Linked DNA regions of Homo sapiens. The protein of the gene in region 1 interacts with the protein of each later gene in a pairwise test. Each region holds a gene or a part of one and is shown on either strand. Other genes may lie near its edges. The genes, in order: TNFRSF10C and LRSAM1.

What was found.
Region 2: the proteins of TNFRSF10C (region 1) and LRSAM1 interact in a two-hybrid assay, tested with the Homo sapiens proteins (one large-scale study listed by IntAct).

The regions. Positions count from the first base shown.
Region 1 is NC_000008.11:23,105,680-23,109,703, forward strand, and holds part of TNFRSF10C (tumor necrosis factor receptor superfamily member 10C precursor), read left to right. Parts: intron 1-4,024. UniProt on the Homo sapiens protein: Receptor for the cytotoxic ligand TRAIL. Lacks a cytoplasmic death domain and hence is not capable of inducing apoptosis. May protect cells against TRAIL mediated apoptosis by competing with TRAIL-R1 and R2 for binding to the ligand.
Region 2 is NC_000009.12:127,458,010-127,461,509, forward strand, and holds part of LRSAM1 (E3 ubiquitin-protein ligase LRSAM1), read left to right. Parts: intron 1-993; coding exon 994-1,062; intron 1,063-3,163; coding exon 3,164-3,248; intron 3,249-3,500.

The DNA.
Region 1 (4,024 bases):
TTCTGGTCCTCTGTCGTGTATCCAGGAGTGGCAGGGCAGTGAGGCTCTAGCTTCTAGGTCAGGGATGGGGACAGTGGGGACAGTGCCATGCCCCGAGCCTCTGCCGTTGGGCAGCTGGTATCCTGCTTCCAGCCAGAGAATGCACATCTTCATGTAGTGGATTTCCTAACAACCCGGGGAGATGAAGGTAGGTTGTTTTTCCTGTTTTACAAGTGGTAAAATGAGATTCAGGGCTAGAGTTCTCTGAGCAGCTGCTTCTCTGATCTCTGTCCTGCCCTTGGCCTCTGGGAGCTCTTATGGTTCCTCAGCAGAGTTCACAGGGCTCTTGGAGCCTGTCCTTCGGCCTTGAGCTGAGGCCACAACTGCGCGCACTTCATAGGCTTGAGGGGAAAGTGATTCATCCAGGAAGTAAACAGTGAGCCCTTTACTCTGAGAACACCTGTGCCTGGAGTCCGCCGGAGTTTGGGAGGACAAATGAACCCCATGTGAATCCTGTTCCCTGGAGCCCGCAGTGTGGTGGGAGAGGTGACCCAGGGATTATATAACTAATAGGAGGTAGCATGAAGGAGGCCTGAGATCTCACTACCCTTGCCTCCCCCTCCTCCAGAGAGGCTGTGCTGGAGAGAGGCCATGCTGTTGCAGGGCCATAGGATGTGGTACTGTTGGCCTGGAAGATGTGGTTTGATTACAGTCACCATTGAGGGTCAGGGAGGGGAGCGAAGCTCTCCTTTAGATGCCCCCCCACCCGATTTTTTTTTTTTTTTTTTTAGCTGGGCCTGAGAATTTGATTCACCTAAGAGAGGTCCACAGGAGACAAGCACACACATTTATTTAATTCAAGTTTTACCTGGCATGGAAGAACCTGTGAGAGTCAGTTACTTATTTACTGAATTAGACCAAGTAACTCATGAAGAAGCAAGTAACTATGTGAGGAGCTAAAAAGATGAGAGTGGATCCATTCTAACATGGTCTGCACAGTACCCTCTTGGCCTCGACTTCTCATCCTTAAAAATAAGGAAATTGTCAGCTGGGTGCGGTGGCTCACGCCTGTAATCCCAGCACTTCGGGAGGTCAAGGCAGGTGGATCACGAGGTCAGGAGATCGAGACCATCCTGGCTAACACAGTGAAACCCCGTCTCTACTGAAAATACAAAACAATTAGCGGAGTGTGGTGGCGGGTGCCTGTAGTCCCAGCTACTGGAGAGGCTGAGGCAGGAGAATGGTGAGAACCTGGGAAGCAGAGCTTTCAGAAAAAAAAAAAAAGGAGATTGTCCTATGTTTCCCTGGGGACTTTCATCTCCTGCTTTTAGGAAACACAAAAGAGGTCAAAGGATCTTCTTGCACCTGTTGTTTTTCAATAGCCTTTAATTCATAATAGTCAATTGACCAGGGTGGGCAGGGTGCGATGGCTCACACCTGTAGTCCTGCCAAGACAGGCAGATCACTTGAGCCCAGGAGTTCAAGACCAGCCAGGGCAACATAGCAAAACCCGGTCACAACAACAACAACAAAAAACCAAACAAACAGAAAAACAGAAAAACACAGAAAATTATGTCGTGTGAAGGAATCCACACAGAATGCTTACCATCTGATTCCATTTCTCATTAAAATTCGACCAATCTATTCTGACAAAAAGCAGAATTATTGCTGGGGACATAGGAGCAAAGCGGAAGAGAGGATTACATTGAAGAATGAAGAAATTCTGGGGTGTGGTGGACATGTCATTTTCTTATCGTGGTGGTAGTTCCACAATGTATACACACGTCTCAATCTACCAAACTACATGCTTCAAAAATGTACACTTTGTTTCATGCCCATTATACCTCAATGAATCCATTTTTAAAAAACCTTCAATAGAATGTAAACACTTGAGTGTATACTGTATTCCCTATAGCACTTGCACATAGATCATGGAAATAGGTATGCATAAAAAGTCAGTTTATCCAATTAAAATGGAATTCTAAAAGGTAATTAACATTAAAATGTGCAGGGGGAAAAGGAGTAAAAAAATTAGACTAGACAATCATAGCTTAAATGGTAAACTTACAGGTCTATTTCAACTATATCAATTATTGCACTCCCTGTAAATCCACTGAGCACTACAGTTCAATGGTAGAAATGTTTGGAAGGGCTGAGAAAGCAAGACTCAACTATATCTTGTCTATATGAGATGGGCCTTAAAAGGAAGACACAGATGTTGTCTGTTGAAAGTAAATAGATGGAAAAAGATACACCATGCAGAGTGTAAGGCCAAGAAAACTGCCATGGCTATCTCAGTATCAGATGAAGTTGATTTTGTTAGCGGTGGATGAGATCCGAGTTACCCTACGTTGAAGGCGGCGAATCCGTATGCGTCCACAGCACCTTCAGCTCTTCGCCTCCTGAGAAGAAAGAACTGGTTTGAGGGGCATAAGGCAGAAGCAGAGATGGAGGCAAGTTTCAGAGCAGGAGTGAAAGTTTATTAAAAAGCTTTAGAACAGGAAGGAAAGGAAGGAACAGGAAGGAAAGGAAGGAACAGAAAGAAAAGAAGGAAAGTACACTTGGAAGATGGCCAAGCAGGTGACTTGAGAAACAGTACGCAGCCGGACCGCCTGAGTTGGGGTTTTATAGGTTGGCCTACTTCCAGGATCTTGCCTTACTTCTCCCCACTCCTGAAATCTTATTGGGAAGCTGCTGATCAGTTTCAAGTGTTTTCTATGTATTAGGAAACTGCTTTTTTCTGGCATCGGCTGTAACCAGTTATTACTTTAGAGACACAGTTATCAACTACCTGATGGTCGCCCAACACTGCTGGTGTCAGAAGCGGGGACCCCTCTCCTGTCCTGCTCATACCTAACTAGCTGCCTACTGTGACAATTTTAGGACATTGAATATTATGGGAGATGAAAAGGGACCTTTGTAGTTAAAAGGGTTAATTCTTCAAGGAGTATAATAACAACAAATTGTATATGCCTAGTAATACATCTTCAAAACACATGACACAAAAATAGAATTAAAAAGAGATTAACTCAGCTGTTTCTCTGCACTTGCTAGCATGATTAGATGAAAATGCCAGTAAAGTGGCAAGCGATCTGCACACTATCAACCACCTTGATTTAACTGACATTTAAAGAGCAGGAGTGGAACATTCACTGAACACTCATTCCTTTCTATGCTCATGATACTTTCACCAAGATAGACCAGGTTCTGGGCTATAAAACACACAATATGATCTCTAAACTTAATGAAACTAAACTGGAAATCAGTAACAATATCCACAGAGAATTCTAAAATTTTGATATTGAACAACACACTTCTAAAAATCTGTGGTTCAGACAGGAAATCAAAAGGGAAGGTAAGATATTTCAAAGTAAGTAATAATGACAATATAACACATCAAAAGTGGTGCGAAATAGCTAACAGTGCTCAGGGTGAAATATACAGCTTTCAATGTTTGTATTAAAAAACTGGGGGTTAGGGAGATGGGGAGTTACTGCTGAAGGGTATGTAGTTCCTTTCTGGAGTGATAAAAATATTCTAAAATTGATTATAGTGATGATTGCATAGCTATGAGTATATTAAAAACTGCTGAAGTGTGGACTTTAAATGGGTGAATTATATGAATAATCATAATTATTAATTATGTGAATTGTGTCTCACTAAAGCTGTCAAAAAAAGAAAAAACGTGAAAATTATGGGCCGGGCACGGTGGCTCACATCTGTAATTCCAGCACTTTGGGAGGCCGAGGAGGGTGGATCACGAGGTCAGAAAATCGAGACCATCCTGGCTAACACGGTGAAACCCTGTCTCTACTAAAAATACAAAAAATTAGCCAGGCGTGGTGGCGGGCACCTGTAGTCCCAGTTACTTGGGAGGCTGAGGCAGGAGAATAGCATGAACCTGGGAGGTGGAGCTTGCAGTGAGCCGAGATTGTGCCACTGCACTCCGGCCTGGGAGACAGCGAGACTCCATCTCAAAAAAAAAAAAGAAAAAGAAAAAGAAAATTATGGCCTGAGGAGCTACATTAATCAATCATAAAATATA
Region 2 (3,500 bases), on another chromosome or scaffold:
TCCATAGATATGGAGGGTACCTGTGTGTGCACATGTATAAATATTTCTCCAAGGCCTTTTTTGTGCATTTTCATTTTTAAAAAATTAGCAGTCAGTCGTGGTGGCTCACACCCATAATCCTAGCACTTTGGGAGGCCAAGGCGGGTGGGTCACTTGAGGTCAGGAGTTCAAGACCAGCCTGGCCAACATGGTGAAACCCCGTCTCTACTAAAAATACAAAAAATTAGCCGGGCGCGGTGGCGGGCGCCTGTAGTCCCAGCTACTCGGGAGGCTGAGGCAGGAGAATGGCGTGAACCCGGGAAGCGGAGCTTGCAGTGAGCCGAGATTGCGCCACTGCAGTCCGCAGTCCGGCGTGGGCGACAGAGCGAGACTTCGTCTCAAAAACAAAACAAAACAAAACAAAACAAAACAAAAAAAAACACCAGCAGAGCATGTTGGCTTGTGCTTGTAATCCCAGCTACTTGGGAGGCTGAGGCACGAGAATCACTTGAACCCAGGAGGTGGAGGTTGCAGTGAGCTGAGGTCGTGCCACTGCACTCCAGCCTGGGTGACAGAGTGAGACTCTGTCTCAAAATAAAACAAAATAAAATAAAATTAAATTAAAAATTAGCAAGTACAGTTAAGCAAAGGGGGAAACATCTATAATTTTACACTGTGGAGTACCACTGTCAATATTTTATCGCATATTTGAAAGTCTTACATATTTATACAATGGAGTGTTTCTTTTTAACATATTAGTATCTAGGCATACTGTTTTATAGCATAGTTTTTCAGTTAACAGTAAAAATAAATATACATAAAATAAGAAAATGGTATAATGGTTTGAGAAGGAAAATGAGGCGGGAATGATCAACACTGAGTGGGAAAGGAGTGGCAGGCACTCTGTTTCTGCACTGGGGGTGTGAGGTGGCCCCAGCCCCTCCTCAGCGCTCTGGAGCCCGGAGTCTGAGGGACTTTCTCACTTGGAGACTCACAGGGGTCTTTCTTCTGCAGGTTCTAGATCTCCACGATAATCAGCTGACAGCCCTTCCTGACGATCTGGGGCAGCTGACTGCCCTCCAGGTAAGGCTGCAGAAACAGAAACCCACCTCGGATGGCCTTAGTGAGACCAGGCAGTCACTCAAGCCTGGAATGTTCTGGCCGGGCTCCAGCCAGTGGAAGCAGGCTGCAATCAGTGCCAGCTCCACCCTCCCCTTGGCCCTTTGGGGTTTTTTTTTTTTTTTTTGAGGCAGTGCCTCACTGCGTTGCCCAGGCTGGGGTGCAGTGGCGCCATCAGAGTTGCAGAGGCAACCTCTGCCTCCCGAGTTCAAGCGATTCTCCTGCCTCAGCCTCCCTAGTAGCTGGGATTACAGGTGTGTGCCACCACTCCCAGCTAGTTTTTGTATTTTTAGTAGAGATGGTGTTTCGCCTTGTTGGCCTGACTGGTCTCAAACTCCTGACCTCAAGTTATCCACTCACTTTGGCCTCCCAAAGTGCTGGGATTACAGGTGTGAGCCACCACGCCTGACCAATTGTACCACTTTGAGCCACAATAAATACCTTGGTGTAGGACTTTTTGTATGTGTATTTTTTTTTTCTCACTCTTGTCACCCAGGCTGGAGTGCAGTGGCACCATCTCAACTCACTGCAACATCTGCCTCCCGGGTTCAAGAGATTCTCATGCCTCAGCCTCCTGAGTATCTGGGATTACAGGCACACGCCACCACACCTGGACAATTTTTGTATTTTCAGTAGAGACTTGTTTTCACCATGTTGGCCAGGCTGACCTCAAACTCCTGGCCTCAGGTGATCCACCCGTCTTGGCCTCCCAAAGTGCTGGAATTACAGGCATGAGCCACTGCACCTGGCCAGTAGGTGTATTTTTATAGAATTGCTGCATTCACTAATTTGTAACTTTTGGATACCTGACAATAACTCATAGCATCCTTTGGTTCATCAAATATTCATCTTATTATTTTTAATGGCTACTTAGCTTTCCATTGCATCATTTTTTGTTTGTTTGTATTTTTGAGATAGAGTCTCGCTCTATCACCAGGCTGGAGTGCAGTGGTGTGATCTCGGCTCACTGCAATCTCCACCTCCCGGGTTCAAGCGATTCCCCTGCCTCAGCCTCCTAAGTAGCTGGAATTACAGGCGCCCACCACTATGCCTGGCTAATTTTTTATATTTTAGTAGAGACGGGGTTTCACCATGTTCACCAGGATGGTCTCAATCTCCTGATCTCATGATCCACCCACCTCAGCCTCCCAAAGTGCTGGGATTACAGGTGTTAGCCACCGTGCCTGGCCCCCATTGCATCTATTTTTAATGGTTAGTGTGTCATCCTGCTAGCCTTGCTCACCTCGAGGTACCACCTTCTGGAGGGAGCACAGCTTCGGAATCCAACAAGCCCTGGTTCAGTCCCAGCACCACTGCCGGCCTGAGGCCTTGGGTGGATCACACGGCCTTAGGGCAGCCTTTTCCTTAAGGCCAGGGGAACTAGAGCCTCCTGTGCTGCCTCCCCAGATCCCCAAGTCTGTAGTCCCCTTCTCCCTCCTTCCCTGATGGTGGGGCAGTTACTGAGCATTTTGTGGTCGGTGTAAGTGCTGGAACCTCAGCCAGAAGGGGTTCAAGGCCTGGCTGTGCTCTCCTGAGCACGTGACTTTGCCACCCTGAGCTTCAGTTTTTTTCCTGTCTCCAGCGGAAACAAGAATTTCTGTCTTCCTCAAGGGCCGGTAGGGGGAGATAAGAGCTTGTGTGTGTAGTGCCTGGGTGCCCTGGCCCGGCAGGGCGAGGGGTGCGGGGGTCATCACTGTGGTCTGTGTGTGGGTTCTCGTGTCACCTCTTCCTGTTTCTTTCTTTTTTTTTTTTTTTTTTTTTTTTTTGAGACGGAGTCTCACTCTGTTGCCCAGGCCGGAGTGCAATGGTGCAATCTCAGCTCACCGCAACCTCTGCCTCCTGGGTTCAAGCAATTCTCCTGCCTCAGCCTCCCGAGTAGCTGGGACTACAGGTGTGTGCCACCATGCCCAGCTAATTTTTGTATTTTTAGTAGAGATGGGATTTCACTATGTTGGCCAGGCTGGTCTTGAACTCTTGACCTTGTGATCCACCTGCCTCGGCCTCCCAAAGTGCTGGGATTACAGGCATAAGCCACTGCGCCTGGCTGCCTCTTCCTCTTTCTTAGGTCTTAAACGTGGAAAGGAATCAACTGATGCAGCTCCCACGTTCCATTGGGAACCTGACCCAGCTCCAGACTCTCAATGTTAAAGGTAGGGACCAAGAAGCCGTGTCCGTGTGACCCTCCATCAGCTCTGGGCCATCCTGGCCGGGATCCACAGGCTGCCCCGCCCGGGAGCCATTGAGCAGGAGGGCAGCCAGTCTCCGGGGGTCGCTGTAAATGGACTGACCCCTGCTGGGTCAGCTGTCTTCATGGTAACCAGAGACAGGCTGTCTGGAGGGTTCCTGTGGCTCCTGAGAGCCAGGGCCGTATGGCCGTATGGGGAGGAGGGCAGCTGGGCCCC